Regions from separate parts of the Homo sapiens genome. Here region 2 is linked to region 1. Evidence: fine-mapped expression QTL. Tissue or cell type: stomach. Region 1 holds a variant in brackets; the other region holds the start of a gene. All regions are shown on one strand. Distances are from middle to middle.

Evidence for each region. PIP is the estimated chance that this variant, and not a neighbour inherited with it, causes the effect.
Region 2: SYNJ2 starts here. The variant in region 1 is fine-mapped to the expression of SYNJ2 in stomach (GTEx, PIP 0.92).

Annotation. Positions count from the first base shown.
Region 1 is chr6:157,897,951-157,906,055 of GRCh38, reverse strand. It overlaps SNX9 (sorting nexin 9), which reads right to left. Exons shown (of 18, transcript NM_016224.5): 6 at 4,011-4,158. Among named protein-coding and RNA genes, the nearest start is that of SNX9-AS1, 9.1 kb to the right of the region's middle. The variant C/T (reference allele first, on the strand shown) is at 3,295.
Region 2 is chr6:157,977,732-157,985,836 of GRCh38, reverse strand. It overlaps SYNJ2 (synaptojanin 2), which reads right to left and starts at 3,974. Exons shown (of 27, transcript NM_003898.4): 1 at 3,749-3,974. The coding sequence starts at 3,875. RefSeq lists enhancers at 3,693-4,208, 4,409-4,458, 4,479-4,668, 4,209-4,724, 4,689-4,738 and a silencer at 3,709-4,288.

The DNA.
Region 1 (8,105 bases):
TACTTACCAGTTTTAACCTTGTCCTGTCTTTCGGGTGCACTAGAACTGGAAACTGTGGTAAATGAAACCTAATGTAATCAGATTGTTCAATGGCCAATTAGGCATTTAATTAAGCTTGATCTGGTAAACAGAACAGTTTGACTCCAGAAGGTGTGATGTTTACGGGCACTCTATTTGCTTGACTGTGTCTGAAACATTCGGTCACCCCAGAGTGAAGGGCAGACCTGAAAAAACGCCCCCCTAGTTCCCTGGGGCAGTGAGTAGTGAGCACGCCAATCTGAGTTGGCCACAGGGGGCAATAGCCACATGCTGGCATTTCTACATCCAAATTAAAGTTGCCTTTCAACAGGCTCTCTCCAGAGGCCACAACTGTCCCAAAGGGGCTGTCCTGCTCATCAGCATATGTGCTTGTTTCTTTTGGAATTGCCTTCAGAAGCAGTTCATGACAGCGGAAAACAAGTCTCTTTAGTAGAGACCCAAAGTGTAATCAATAAATTTGGCTATGGGGAGGGGGTGGGGGGGAGGTCACTTAAGACTCAAAAACTTAAATAAACTTGACTACTTCCAGAAATCACATCTATATCCAAAGGACATTTCTGAAATTAGAGGACAGCTAGAACATAGCCATCCAAAGGGCTACTGAAAAAGACAAGATTAATTTGGGTTTTAGAATTTTTCTTTTAGTAAACAGAAGAAAAGGAAGCAAAATATCTACAATGGGAAAAGGAATCTTATTTCTACGAAGTTCCAGTCGCATTGCTTCTACTTTCATTCATGTGCCAAGCCAAAGGCCAGTGTGATGCTCTCAGGGGCCCGTGTCTTCTTTTCCTGCATTCTCAGCTGACTTCCCTTGAGTCTCCTTTCTCTAGACATTCCTTTAAAACGCAGCTTACACAAGAGACCAGATGTGTCCTGCAGCTGGATGGCATGGGGTTTGAATTCTGACTCCAACACTTAGGTAGCCTTAGGGGCTGAAATCTCCTTGTGGAAGAATGAGACCAGAATGACCTACCTTCTAAGGTGATAAGGGAATTAAAGATTTATGTAAAGAACCTAGTATGTACTCAGTACATTTCAGTCATTGGCAACTAAGTCATCCTCTCTTTGGAAGTACTCCCTGCAGCCGCAGGTAGAGTCTTCCTAGGCATTTTGAGCATATTTTGTGATTCTATTCATCACACCTGACTGCCGCTATCCATTTACCTATTACAGCAGCCAGAGGGACTTAGAGGAAGCATTTGTGTTTTCAGGACCTGGAGGAGTTTTGGGAGCATACTGAATGCTTAATGAATTAGGCTAACCTGCAACACTTTTATTTATTAATTACTCTATTTTATTTATTTTTTTGAGACAGAGTCTCACTCTGTCGCCAGGCTGGAGTACAGTGGCGCGATCTCGGCTCACTGTAACCTCCACCTCCTGGTTCAAGCGATTATCCTGCCTCAGTCTCCCAAGTAGCTGGGACTACAGGTGCGCTTCTGTGGGGATTATATATCATGACAACTCCTTGACCAGCTTGTAAGCATTTCAATTTTTGGGCACTGTTATGGACCACAGAAAAATTTGAGGACAGCAATGTATTAATTATTTCAGCATCATCAAGATGCCTTTTATTTTTTTTTTGGAGACAGAGTCTCTGTGTCGCCCAAGCTGGAGTGCAGTGGTGCCATCTCGGCTCACTGCAACCTCCGTCTCCCGGGTTCAAGCGATTCTCCTGCCTGAGCCTTCCAAGTAGCTAGGATTACAGGCGTGCCACCACGCCCAGCTACTTTTTTATATTTTTGGTACAGATTGAGGTTTCACCATGTTGGCCAGGCTGGTCTCGAATTCCTGACCTCGTGATCTGCCTGCCTCGGCCTCCCAAAGTGCTAGGATTACAGACATGAGGCACTGCACCTGGCCCAAGGTGAATTCTTATAGTGCTCAAGTATATTTAATTTCAGATCTCTTTTTCTAGTATAAGATTTATGTTCCATGACTAGAATACAGCTGTCATATAAAATGGATTAATTGCTGAAAAAGTGTTAATACTTAAAAACATTTTTTATAATTGTTTTAAGTTTAAGTGACTCATTTATACAGTTTAGTTAAATACAAATACACAGGGTGTTAAATCGTTCACAGCACTACAGAGAGACAGAGATGCCTCAGAGGCACAGGTTCAAGTTAGGACTGCTTTAATGTGGTTTCAGCCTGGAATGATATTTTAGAGCAGAAAGAATTCTTAAAGCCAACCTCCTTGCTTTCGAGATGAAGAAACTGAGGTTCCAACAGGTCACGAAACTTGCCTTAAGGTTATAAGCAAATCAGAGAGCAAGTGTGGAGCAGAGGAGAGCACCAAAAACCAGAGTCAGAGACCCCCAGGCATGAGCTGGAACCTCACTCATCAGCCATGAAAACGTGGCCACTCATTTTTCTCAGTCTCTGCTTCCTTCGTTTTCAAAATGGGGCTAATTTATATGAATTTTCAATATACTTTATATTCACATTTAAAGAACAGCTGACAATGATGCACATCACTACTGACCATGACTGAAAACTTCAAATTTGACTCTGAAACAAGACACAGTTGACTAACAAGACAGAGAATTATTCACTTTATTATGCATGCAATTGAGCAGGAAAATATATAATGGAAGAAACTGGGTAAGAGGCAGCAAAAGTGTGCAGTCAAAAGAGAACTCATTTAATCACTGAAGCTATTTAAATATACTTTGGAGAACTTGTAGGACTTATTAAACTAGATCTAGACCTAGATCTTGATGTCTAAATATATGTCAAATGTTATGTTTTTAATTTTTCCAGACACAGATTAACATTCTTTGATATCTGCCTTGAATCATGGAATTGGAATATTGGGAAAAAGTATTAGTAATTTCAAAAAATAAACTAAACATAACTGCTGGAAGGAGTACTTGAAAATTCTGATGGAAGTCATAAATTACTAATATATCTCCTTCAAGCTACACTGGCATAGACTACAGCCTTATTTAGGTCTCTCCAAAGAATCCTACAGTGGTCACTGGTGCCCACATGCTTTCCTGTTAAGTAGGGTATCTACAAGTACTGTTAAAAACTTTTTTTTTTTGGCTAGGTGTGGTGGCTCAAGCCTGTAATCCCAGCACTTTGGGAGGTAGAGGCGGGCGGATCACTTGAGACCAGGAGCTTGAGACCAGCCTGGCCAACGTGGTAAAACCTCGTCTCTACTAAAAATACAAAAATTAGCTGGGCGCGGTGGCACATGTTTGTAATCCCAGCTACTCAGGTGGCTGAGGCACGAGAATTGCTTGAACC[C/T]GGGACGTTGGGGTTGCAGTGAACCAAGATCGCACCACTGCACTTCAGCCTGGGTGACAGAGCGAGACGCCTGTCTCAAAACAAAAAAATAAAACACAACACTTTTTTTTTTGTTTTAAATCTAAGAGAAACCTAAGCTAACACAAAGCTCCGGACCACGTTTTTAGGCACAGGAGCTGAAACACGTGCTTTGGCGCCTGAGGGCCTGGCTTCCTGACTGGAACACTCGATGCGTCTCTCTGGGCATCAGTTTGCCTGCAGTAAAACAGGGGTTTTATGTACCACAAAGGGATATGAGGGCTACATGCGAATGATACAAACCTCTCTGCACAATGCCTGGCACATGGCAAGTGATTAACAAAACAGTAAAACATTTAAAAGAGAGTTGTTATTATTATTCTTTTTAGCTTTCCTGTGACATTAGCAATGAAACCTTAATATGTCATAAATTGATAAAGCTAGAAGTAATGAAAACAGTTTGGGAAATCATTAAATAAAATAAATATTTCACTTATTAACCTTGTAAATCAAAAATCCTTTTTTTTTTTTAAGTAAGCTTCTCAGTTAAGATCCAAATAAAAATAACTGAATCATATCCAAAACTTAGGAGATCACTGGAAAGGGAAAAGGCCAGCTGCCTCTTGGTAGGGTATATACTTTGTATTAATGTATACTTCTACCACGGCCCTGGTTCCCTGGCTCCCCTTTAAACTTACTTGTTAAGGGGAATTTTCATGGATGAGGAACTAGCACGACTGTTTCCTCGCTGAGCGCCGCCTGCATCAGCTGACTCTGAATCCTTAAAGTAGGAAGAGGATTTGGGCCCATCCCAGTCTTCATCCCAGTCATCATCATCACCAGTTGCTAGAGGTGAAAATGGAAGATCATCAGTTAAAAAAAAAAAAAAGACCAAAATAAAAATGAAATTACTTAATTTTCTGACAGTAACTACCTACTGGGCAAATCAATTTTTTTTTGATGGAGAAAAGGGTATAGTATAGGAGTATAATATGGATGTTAAGAGTAAAGGCTGTGTAGTCAATTTTAAGCCTTGAATTACAGATTCTTTTAGTGCAAAAGACAAATCAGAAGCAACTTAAAGAGGGCTATCAGATTACTTTTAAATTTTTGACACGGGCACCGAGATGACACAGTGGAGAAAGGGCAGTCTCTTTAGTAAGTCGTGCTGGGAAAACCAGGTATCTACATGCAAAAGAATAAAACTGGACCTTGTCTTACACCACACACAAAAATCAACTTAAAATAGATTACAGACCTAAATGGAAGACCTGAAACCACACAACTCCTAGAAGGAAACACAGGGGAAAAGCTCCTTGGCGCTGGCCTTGGCAAATGTTTTTTTGAGTATTACACCAAAAGCACAGGGAACAAAGTCAAAAATAACAGGCGGGACTACATGGAACTAAAAAGCTTCTGAACAGCAAAGGAAACAATCAAAATGAAAAGGTAGCCTATGGGCTGGTGTAGGGAGACCCCCTGAAACTATTGCTATGGAATAAAAGATGAAATGCTCCTGATTATTGTAAATACAAAATTGCATGCAGGATTGTGTAAAGACAGTGCCAGGTGGGACTGCCAGAATGAGCCAACAGCATGTGATGTGCTTCCCCCTGCAGAGAGCCTATGAATGGATGTGCAGTCAGGGAGGTTTCACATCACCAAGATTCCTATCCCAGAAAAGCAGATATTCATAGCTCTGGGAATGGAAAGTGACCCTTGTAAAGAGCCTATAAACAGACACATGGGGGCACCGTCCATATGGATAAGATAGGGCTATAAACGCCCTCATCTTGCCAGGGCTCTTCTGGGCCTCTTTAGGGTTAAGGCATACTCCCTTCTGAGAATTTCTGGTCTAACAGGTTGTCTAGCTTCACGTCCTGTTTCTACGGATTGTTTGTAACCAGCTTTTGCTGCAACTGTTACTGCTGATTAATATCTTGCTAATCATAGGTTATGGAAAGACTGTGTTTCTGTTTTAAGGCTCTGTCAGAAATTACTGATGCATACACTATATTGTAAATTCTTATCTCTGTATACTGTACTTCTGCATACAGATGTTATGTTAAAGAATTACTTCATCCCCATGTGACCATCTCACCTCATAATCAAATGACCCTAAATCCCTCACTAACCTACCCCCGCCCTCACTAAACTTAATAATAAATGCTGGTATATCCAGTGCATTGTTGGCACTGCAGGACCAGAAGGCAGTGACCCCCCCGGACCCAGCTTTCGCTATCTTGTGTGTGTCTATTATTTCTCAACGGGCCGATCCGCCTGGGAACACAAAGAGAACCCCGTTGCATTGCGGGCTGCTGGCCAGATCCCGCAATAGGCTGGGAGAAAATATTTGCGAGCCATGTATCTGATAACCTGTTAATATTCAAAACATATAATGAACTCGCACAATTCAATAGCAAATAAAAAAAGCTCAATTAAAAAATGGACAAAGGACCCAAATTGACATTTTTCCAAAGAAGACCAAAAAATGGCCAAGAGGTATATGAAAATGCACTCAACATCACACACAAAGAAAAATACCACATGGATCTTATTTACATGTGGAACTTTTAACAGGTCTTTAAAAAAATCTAAAAAACTTATAGAAGCAGAAAGTAGAAAGGTGGTTACCAGGGGCAGGGAGACGGGGAACTAGGGAGATGCAGGTCAAAGGTACAAAGTTGCAGTCATGTAGGATAAGTCTAGAGATCTCATGTACAGCATGAGGACTACAGTTAATGATATTGCATTATATTTGGGAAACCTGCTGAGGGAGATTTTAGGTGCTCTTACCACACACACACCCACAGGCACGCACTTGCACATATACACGCGCACACACACACACTTAGGTAATCATGTGAGGTGAGGGATATGTTAAGCGCTTGGCTGTAGTAATGATTTCAGTATATACATGTATATTACAACATCACGCTGTATACCTCAAATATAGATAATTTTTTTTTTGAGACGGAGCCTCGCTTTGTTGGCCAGGCTGGAGTGCAGTGGCGCAATCTTGGCTCCCTGCAAGCTCCGCCTCCTGGGTTCAGGCCATTCTCCTGCCTCAGCTTCCCGAGTAGCTGGGACTACAGGCGCCTGCCACCACACCCGGCTAATTTTTTTTCTATTTTTAGTAGAGATGGGGTTTCACCGTGTTAGCCAGGATGGCCTTGATCTCCTGACCTTGTGATCCGCCTGCCTCGGCCTCCCAAACTGCTGGGATTACAGGCGTGAAAATATAGATAATTTTTTTAAAGGGCTGTCAGTCCACATCACTTCAGATAAATGCAGACTGTAAGAATGTTAAGTGGTACACAGTAGAAAAGACTTCTAGAGGCCTAGACACTGATAAATCTAGTCTTATACATTTACAAATAAGCAGAATACCCTTTAATTCTAGAGGCTTGGGGAGGACGAAAGGGACGACAGAACTTTGAAAAGCAGCTGTTTAACACTAACAATAAAGGGGAGAGAAGGGCAACGAGGGGGACATTAAAAAGACCGAGTTGGGGTGTGGGAGAAAAAGATGAGAGTGAAGAAGTAATTAAGCAGCATCAGTAGCTACTATTCTGACAATAATCCCCGTGTCAGATAAGGTGCTGTGGGCTCTCCTCCTTCTCCTTCCTCCCCTGTGGGCTCTCCTCCTTCTCCTTCCTCCCCTGTGGGCTCTCCTCCTTCTCCTTCCTCCCCTACTCTAACGGCCTGAGTGTCCTTTAGTGTCAGGTCCTAAGAGTGCCATTATGGAGAAGCCGAGAGACAAATGCCAAATGGGAGAAGAACAAACTATGAGAAGGATGTGGGCCAAGTGACCAGAGAGCCAGACCCCAGGAGTCTCCCAACGCTTCTACCCAGCCCACACCCCTGGTCCTGCTGACAGGCAGCTCCTGTCTATGACTGCCAGCCTTCAGCCGGGACCTGCACCCTGCTTTGGGCTTACAAGTGAGGTCCTTGCTGTTTAGAACAGACATTCAATTCTTGGCCCAATGTGCTTACAGAGGAGACAGGGTTCAGGAATTGTTAAAAAATAATGGGAGACTACCTTCTTATTTAATTTCAGATCAGACATAAATACCCTTAATTCCCAAATTATTTCCCATTCCACACATTTCTCTTCTGCCTCAGTATTTCTATTCATAGCCTAGTCAAACAGGAAGTTAAAACAGTGAATGCAGAGGTCTTAAACCAGCAGGATGAGCCACATCCCATCCACATACACGTTTCTGGCTCAAGATTTTAAAACAAACGTGTTAGCTGCTGAGATGTTAAAATCAGAAGGTGACAAATAACCAAGACTTCTCATCTCTCTGAAGATGTGGAGATCAGAACGTGGGCTCAGCTTCCCTGCAAATGCAGTGATCCACGGGCGACAGCAGGGGCCCTCAGCCTTCTGCAGCCTCCACCGCCCATTCTGCTTTTACTTTACCAACCCAGCGTTTGAATCTGTGACTTCACACAGATAAGTAAGACTGAACTAAAGTTAGAGTTAATGACCATCTACAATTGAATCCAGGTTTGCTACTAGTGAATAAGGGCAACTGCAAGCAGTTCTTTTGAATAAAATCTATTTTCAACTCAATGACCCAGAGTGGTATTGTGAGGTAAGAAATAGCCATCTGGTCTGCGTCCCTAGTTCCCGGCACAGAGCTCCTAAAACTCTTGTAACTTCCTGAATGTTAGGTGTGCAAGGTGTATCTTTTGTTCTGATATTTGGTCTCTGACCCTGGCTCCTGACACAGATCTCCTAACCCTTGGAATTTCCCGGGTGGTAGGAGCATCTTTTGTTCAAATGA
Region 2 (8,105 bases), 80 kb before region 1:
CTGCCCCATCCCTCCCTCCCTGCTGCCTGTTCACAGCAAAGCCCGGCTGGGCGGCAGGAGGCACGACTTCACTCACACACAGCCCGCACTGTAAACACAGGGACACCCTCAGGCCACCGTTCCTGGGGGCTGTTGGAGAACCTTGAACTTTGGAACACTGTCGCTTACTCTGAAAATACACAAAATCCATTAACAATAAGCACTTTTCCCTAAGTTTACAAGAGACAGAGACAGGAGTAGGTTTTTGTCCCATGTGCAAATAAGGGAACATCTGTTTGCTAATTGTGGATTGTTGGCCAGGGATGCTGGTACCGGCTACGGGGCTTCCCACCTGTGCTGAGAAGGCCAACTACCCTCCAGTCAGGTTCCCGAGACTTCATAAAAGCCTTTTAAATCAGTGCCAATACATTTGGCTTTTCTGCCTCTGGAATTTTTGCTCCCACTGATCTACATAAAAGACAGATTCAGATTCACAACCTAATTCTTTTAGAAGCAGGAATTTGGAATAATTCCTTCAACAATCCTGCTAGCAGGCCAGACGGCCCTAGTGTGAAGAGTTCACTTTAGAGCAGGACAGGTGAAGACAGGTGAAGACAGGTTCAGATGGAAGGAGTCCAGCAATCAACGAATCATGGACCATCCGTTTTTCCTAAAAATCACAGCCCAGTTCAAGCCCCTGTCTCCAGGCCTTGCCTGAAAATGATAAGGAACCACCCAGCCCCTTCGGCGAGAGGTACTTTTCCAGTTAGGATCCTTCAGGAATAAAATGTGCTATGAAGGGGCAGCGCCTGTGGTCATCAGGCCCAGTCCCCTCATCTCCTCTCGCCCCTAGGAAAGCAGCTATGTGCATCCGCAGCGGAGCAGGATGGAAGTTAGAATGACTCAGGGGCCGGGAAAGACCACTACCCACGAAGCAGTTACCACAACTTGTCTCTCAGCCTCTCATTACTAACTGGGAGGGACCCATCACAGGAAAACCACAGCTGAAGAGAAAAGGAAGCTACCCCCGACTCGGAACTTCAAGGAAAGGGTGAAAGGTCAAGATTAGACCACCAGCTACGCCAGCTGCCACAAGTGTCCTGTCCCATACAAAAGTAGAGATTGCAGCCTTCTTGTAAAAATTCACCTTCTCGGGTCAGGCATGGTGGCTCACGCCTGTAATCCTAGCACTTTGGGAGGCCAAAGCAGGTGGATCACCTAAGGTCAGGAGTTAGAAACCAGCCTGGCCAAAATGGCACAACCCCGTCTCTACTAAAAATACAAAAATTAGCCAGGCATGGTGGCGTGTGCCTGTAATCCTAGCTACTGGGGAGGCTGAGGCAGGAGAATCACTTGAACCCAGGTGGGGGTGGCGGTGTTGCAGTCAGCCGAGATCGCACCACTTCACTCAGCCCAGGCAACAAGAGTGAAGCTCCATCTCAAAAAAAAGAAAAAAAATAATCACTTTCTCCAAGAAAGGAAAGTAAAACAGCTAGCTAGCCCTTTGGAACACAGATGGGAATTTCAAGTTCAGAGCCATTTTATCCAATAGTGATGCATTTAGGATATGTTGAAAGTTTTAAACAACTTTCTAGTAACATAAGGCTCTCTCCTACAAACATTCTCTGGACCAGCAAAGCCACCAAATGCTACAGCTGCTTTTTAAAAATAGTTTCATTTTACTTAAACAAAACAGACTTTAAAAAATTAAGTTTTCAGGCCAGACGCAGTAAGTAGTTCATGCCTGTAATCCCAACGCTTTGGGAGACCAAGGCGGAAAGATCACCTGAGCCCAGGAGTTCGAGAACAGCATGGGCAACATAGTAAGACCCCATTTAAAGAAAAGAAAAGAAAGAGAAAAAATTAGCCAGGCATGGTGGCATGTGCCTATAGTCCCAGCTACTCAGGAGGCTGAGGCAGGAGGATCGCTTGAGCCTGGGAAGTTGAGGCTGCAGTGGGCTGTGACTGTGCCACTGCATGCCAGCCTAGGCAACAGAAGAAGCCTCTGTTTCAAAAAAAAAAAAAATTTTTTTTTAAAGTTTTCTACTGAAAAATGAATGCTAGGTTAAATGACAAATGTGGACTGCACATGAGTTGAAGACGAGCCAATTCCTTTCTTACATTCTCTGTTCTAAAATCTGGTATACTGTAATCACCACCGTGATGTAAATCTCAGCCCAAACTTCAGCTCCTAATGGAAAATATGCACTACATTACTGTCATTAATCATTTTTAAATCTTCACTTTTGAAAAAATAAAATCTCTTTTTTCTAAGCTGCTTCAAAGAATTCTTGAATGTGTATGAACTTGGCTTAATGTTGCCGTAATCCAACTGAAGGACATCTTAATCTATTTGATGAAACAGTAGTTTTGTACCATGAAATTACTCTTTCGCTTCCGATAAATGTGGTATGAAGTAGACATCTAAAATGGAATGGAAATTTCTGTGGTTTTCTTTCAAGGCCACACCAAATAACCAAACTTAGACTCTTCAGGACAGCACAAATTAGAATAATCTGAAAATAACTTAATCTACAATTCACTGCCTACTTTTGATGCTGAGACTACTGGAGACATTGTTTCAGTAATCAAGTGACTGAGAACAAGCTGGATAAATGCATGTTAATGAAATGATTAGGGAATCAGAAATAGGAGAGATAGTCCTTCCAAGACATACATCCGAACGGGAGTCGATGCATACAAATGTGAAAAGAAGGCTAGAGGCATCTACAAAGCAGCCTGCTGCATTTGCCGACCACCTCAAGTACGAGTGACCCCGGGCTGCACCTTGTTTAGCTAGGAATACCGGCAAGCTGTTACAGCTGGACGCCTAGTGGTGGGAGCTTACTCTCGGGTGTCCACATTTAGAAGTCTAACAATCAGACCTGGTTTCACGTGCTTTGGTGCTACCCAGGTTTTCCTTATAATGGTTAGCACAAAACAAGGGACCCAGGTTAGCGATACCAGGAAGCCACGCATTGAATGACATTACAGAAACAGCCACATAAAAGTCAGGTGGATGGTGTCACCTTGGCAAGCAACTTAGCCTCTTTAGGCCTCAGTTTGCTCATCTGCAAAATGGGGATAATAATAGCTTTTTAGTAGAATTGTGAGAATTAAGTGAGATCACGTACTAAAGCCCATAGCACAATGCCAGTTTCAAGGCTTCTGAAGTCCATAGGTGAAATTCGCTGGCTTGGCAGGATCTAAGACAGCATAAAGGTCATGGTATATTTGTTTACAAGTTCTATAAATTGCAGCACCGATGCTTCTCGACCAAGTATTTACGTGGGACAAAGCTGCCATCAGCGGTTTCTCCAGAGCCTATGTTTTGGGGCTTTTGTCCCCATCCCCTCCAGGAGTGGAGCCGCCAACACAAACCAAAGGGCAATCACTGGTTTCATCAACAGGTGCAAAAGAAAAGGCGCCAGGCACAGGGTCAGGCCGGCTAAGTCAACACCCCGGGATCCTCATGAATACGCAAAGCGCCCCAGCCGGCTATCCAGCAACCATATCCTCTGGCGGCGCGGGCCGGAGATCCCCGTGGAGGGGCGGCCGGCCTCCGTGCGCCACCGGCCCAGCCAGAGTGCTCTCTCGAGTCCCCAGCCCCACTTCATTCAAACAGCCACCCCTCTGCGCGCGACCCCTACGCCCCGGCAGTCCCAGCGCCGCCCGATCCCCTCGGGAAGGGGGGGTACCCGTCTTCCCGAGGCTGGGCGAATGCGGGCGCCCTCTCCTCCGGGCGTCGCTGCCCCCGGCCCGGACTCACCCAGCGTGGCCACCGTGCCGGCCTCGAACAGCAGGCAGTCGTCGCGGCCGCGCGCCTCCAGCAGCACGCTACAGTCCCCCTCGGCCCCCAGGCGCCCCAGCAGCCGCAGCCCTTTGCTCAGGGCCATGAGGGTCGGGCCCACTGCGGGCGGGGGCCGGGGCCACGTCCTCCCGAGGGCGCGCTGCCCGCGACAGCTCCCCGCGCGCCCGCAACTTGCCAGAGTTTCACTTTGCGCCGCCGCTCCCGCCGCGCCAGGCTCCTCCCCGGCCTCCTCCCCTTCCTCCTCCTCCCCACTCGCGCCTCCCCAGCCTGGGGCAGGTGAGGGCGCGCCGCCGCCTCCCGCCCGGCCCCGCGCTCCCCCCAGCGGCCAGGCAGCTGCGCGAGGCCGCGCCCCGGGGCTGAGGCTCCCCGCAGGCGGGCGTGGAGCGGAAGAGCCTCCCGGATGCCACGCATTCCTCGCTGCGGAGGAGGATGCCCCGCGCGGGGCGACCCCGGGAGCCTGGCTGCGATGCCGGCCGCCCGCAGCCTTATATGGGCAGCCCGGCCCGGGAGTCCGCCAGGCTGGACCCGCTGACTGTTCCCGCCGGGGGCGCTGCGCCTCCCTGTGTGGTCGGCTCCTGCGACCCTGGACGAGTCCTTTCGACCCTGCGTGCCTCGGTCTCCCTGCGGGGAAGCGGGGTCATAACTGCGCCTACTTCGGCGCGGAGGCCTGAGTTAATTCGCGGAGGCGCTTAGCGGGTGCGGAGCGCGTGGAGCGGGCTGGAGAAAGGTTACCTTTCACTAGCGTTCTATCCCGGAGGCTGTTGCGGTCACCGACCCCGCCAGGGAGAGGTGTTGGGGGTCAACGGTGCGTTGTCGCGAAGAGACCTGGAGCCGTGATCCCCAGACCACGACCCCCACTTACCACGTGACCCTGACTTCTCTGCGCTCCACCTTCCTCTCCTGTCAGATGGTGACAGCGCCTCTCCCACCGGCTCTGGACACCGGCACGTGTCCGCGCGTGTACGCTGGAGTGTGTGGCCCGGCCTTCTGGCGCGGGGTTCTAGCGCCCAGGCTTGGCCTGTCAGAGCTGCAGGGGAGGTGGGGTGGGTATGGGTGTTTAGGGCTGAGTTGGAGTCACTCTTTGGGGTGGTTTGGCGGCTTAATTCCCTTCGCTTGTGATGGGTACGTGAGGATGGCCCGAGAAGCCTCCATCAGCTGTTTCCATCCTGCCCGCAAACGAACTCAGTTCCTCTCTCACCCCATTCTGCTGTACTGGGCCAAGCTGTTTGTCTCTGGGACTTGTCCTAGAAAGGGCAGAGCCCCCAGAGCCAAGCAGAACACTGCCATGCCCCTGCAGACATTCAGTAATGACCAGACAAGCCATCCTCAGGGGACAACCTCTCAGGTGATGGTTGGGTAATAAATTTGAACAACCCCAGCAGAGATTATCTTGACCCTTAGCCCCTTTCCTTGCCCACAAACTCTGCCCAGGTCAAGCATGATGTGCTCAATATCCCAGGCATGATGCTCATCAGCTGTCCGAGCAGCTTCTTTCTGTGTAGATGGAAACATTACTACCTCATGAAAACAGTGTGCCCATTCAGTGAGGCAGATCAGCCTTTGGCCCACTTTTTGACCTGAAACTCACTTCTTCCAGGAAGCTTTCCTGGAATGCTGAGGTCCCAGATAATAGTGCTTATATAACACCCAGATTTACAGACTTCAGTTCTCACCTACTCATATGTTGCTTGAGAAGTGTTTTTATGTTTTCTCTTAGCCCTGTTTTGCAAATTGAGTGGTAAGGCCTTAGGGAGGGGACCCAGTCTTCCATTTATCTCTCTCTCCTCTTTCCTAACTAGCATCATATAGTCTAAAGTCCTGCACAGTGGCATGCCATACCTATTTTAGAAATTTTCCTGCAGTCAGGACCAGCAGTTGAGCCTCACAGCTTATAGAATCCAAGTCACCATCAACTGTAAAATGAACCACTATTTTATGTACCACTGAGAAAAAAAAAAAAACTTCCAATTAAACTAGAACATGCCACCAATAGTCATCTCTGCCCTGATTTAGACAATGTTAAAATGCACGTCTCAGACTCAAGGAACTACAGTGGCTGTTCCTCCGTCTCTGAGAAATGGCTGGGTGAGCCAAGAGCCTGCTGGGTTTTGGGGCCTCTGCTGTCTGGTTTCAGGTGGGACAGCCCACCTGGGTGGCAGAGGGAGCAGCTTCCTCACATGCGCACTGGCTTGATAGACCAAGGGTACCCAGGCACAGGCACCTTTCGCAGATGGAGCAACTGACCTTGAGGCCTTCAAGGAAAAGGTTGGCTCAGACACCTAAACCCCCAGCGGCGTTTGGGCAAAGGGGTGGGCCCATCTGCGGCAGGAGAGTTGGGCGCTTCCCCTCTCTGAGATGTATAATGCCTGGAGGGTAGGGAATTGGGAAGGGGAGGAGATGGGGAAGGAAGCAAAAGCCAACTCCACCAGCCCCAGAGTAAGCCACAGCAGGAAATGTAGCTCAGCGTGGTGTGGGTGAGGGAGTCAGGAACCCCAACAGGTTATCAGAGGAAACAAAGAGGGGAAGTAGGGGAGACATGCACTGAACGTTTGAGCCACCCTATCCCCACCCCCTGTTGCCCTACCAAATCCATATGTTGAAGCCCTGACCCCCAGTGGAATGGTTTTTAGAGATGGAACCTTTAGGAGCTCGTTAGGGTCAGATGACGTCATGCCAGTGGGGCCCTCTCAATAAGAATGATAGGATTAGTGTCCTTAGAAGAAGAGACAGGCCAGGCGCGGTGGCTCATGCCTGTAATCCCAGCACTTTGGGAAGCCAAGGTGGGTGAATCACTTGAGATCAGGAGTTTGAGACCACCCTGGCCAACATGGCAAAACCCCATCTCTACTAAAAATACAAAAAAATTCACTGGATGTGGTGGTGTGTGCCTGTAATCCCAGCTACTCGGGAGACTGAGGCAGGAGAATCACTTGAACCCGGGAGGCAGAGGTTGCAGTGAGCAGAGATGGAGCCACTGTACTCCAGCCTGGGCAATAGAGCACGACTCTGTCTCAAAGAAGGAAAAACAAAAAAAAAAAAAAAGAAGAGACACAGAGGGAAGGGCCTGAGCATCTGCCGGCCAGGAAGACGGCCCTCAGCAAGAGCCACATCAGCTGGCACCTTGATCTCAGAATTTCTAGCTTCTAGAACTGAGAAATAAATTTCTATTGTTTAAGCCACTGGCCTGTGGTATTTTATTGCGGAAGCCTGTATTATTAGTCTATTTGTGTTACTATAAAGGAATACCTGAGACTGGGTATTTATAAAGAAAATAGATGTCATTGGCTCACGCTTCCACAGGCTGTACAGGAAGCATGGTGCTGGCGTCTGCTTCTGGGGAGGCCTCAGGAGGCTTACAGTCATGGTGGAAGGCAACCAGGAACCAGCATGTCACGTGGTGAGATTAGAGCAGGAGAGCTGGGGGGAGGTGCCGCACTCTTTCAAACACTCAGATCTCCCGTGAACTAACTGAGCAAGAACTCACTTATCATCAAGAAGATGGTACTAAACCATTCATGAGAGGTCCACCCTCATGATGCAATCCTCCCACCAGGCCCCACCTCCAGCACTGGGGATTACATTTCAACAGGAGATTTGGAGTGGACAGACATCTAACCCCTATCAGAGCCCGAGCCGAGTAAGACAGGAGAGGTTTAAAGGAAATACAAATCTGTATTTGGTGCCTGATTGTATGATATGAGCTGCACAAAGGAAAGTGGGAAGTCAGACAGGACCCTGGCATTTTGAGAATGGGACAGCAGCGATACCATCCCAGAGTGAGGAGGAGGCGAGTTTAATTGGAGACAGAGACCGGGTGGGCAGGTCGTCCAGTGGGAAATGCCTACAGATGAGGGGCCAGAAATGAGTATGGCAGCGATCAAAGGGGAGTGGAGACAGACAGGGGTAGAAGGCAGGGGCAGGAGGAAAAGACGATCAAGAAGTACCCCGAGAAAGCAGAGGGGCCAAGGGCGTGACCTGGACAGCTCTGGATCTCACATGAACTGAGTGAAAACTCATCGTCTAGAGGATGGCGCTAAACCATTCCTGAGGGCTCCTCCCTCTCAGAAAAGGAGGCATTTTTTAACAGACCGGAAGGAGGTAAGAGAAACAGCCATCAGGCATCTGGGGCTACAGCCTCCCACATGCAAAAGCCCTGAGAGGTGACTGGTTTAAAAACCTCAGGAAGGTATCCAAGAATCAGGACTCAGAAAAGAAACTTGGTTTGGTGAGAAGGTAACGGGGACCTTTGAGGGGGCAGCTTCACTAGAGGGCTGGGCAAAAAAGCCAGCTTGCAAAGAAATAAGGAAGAAATGGC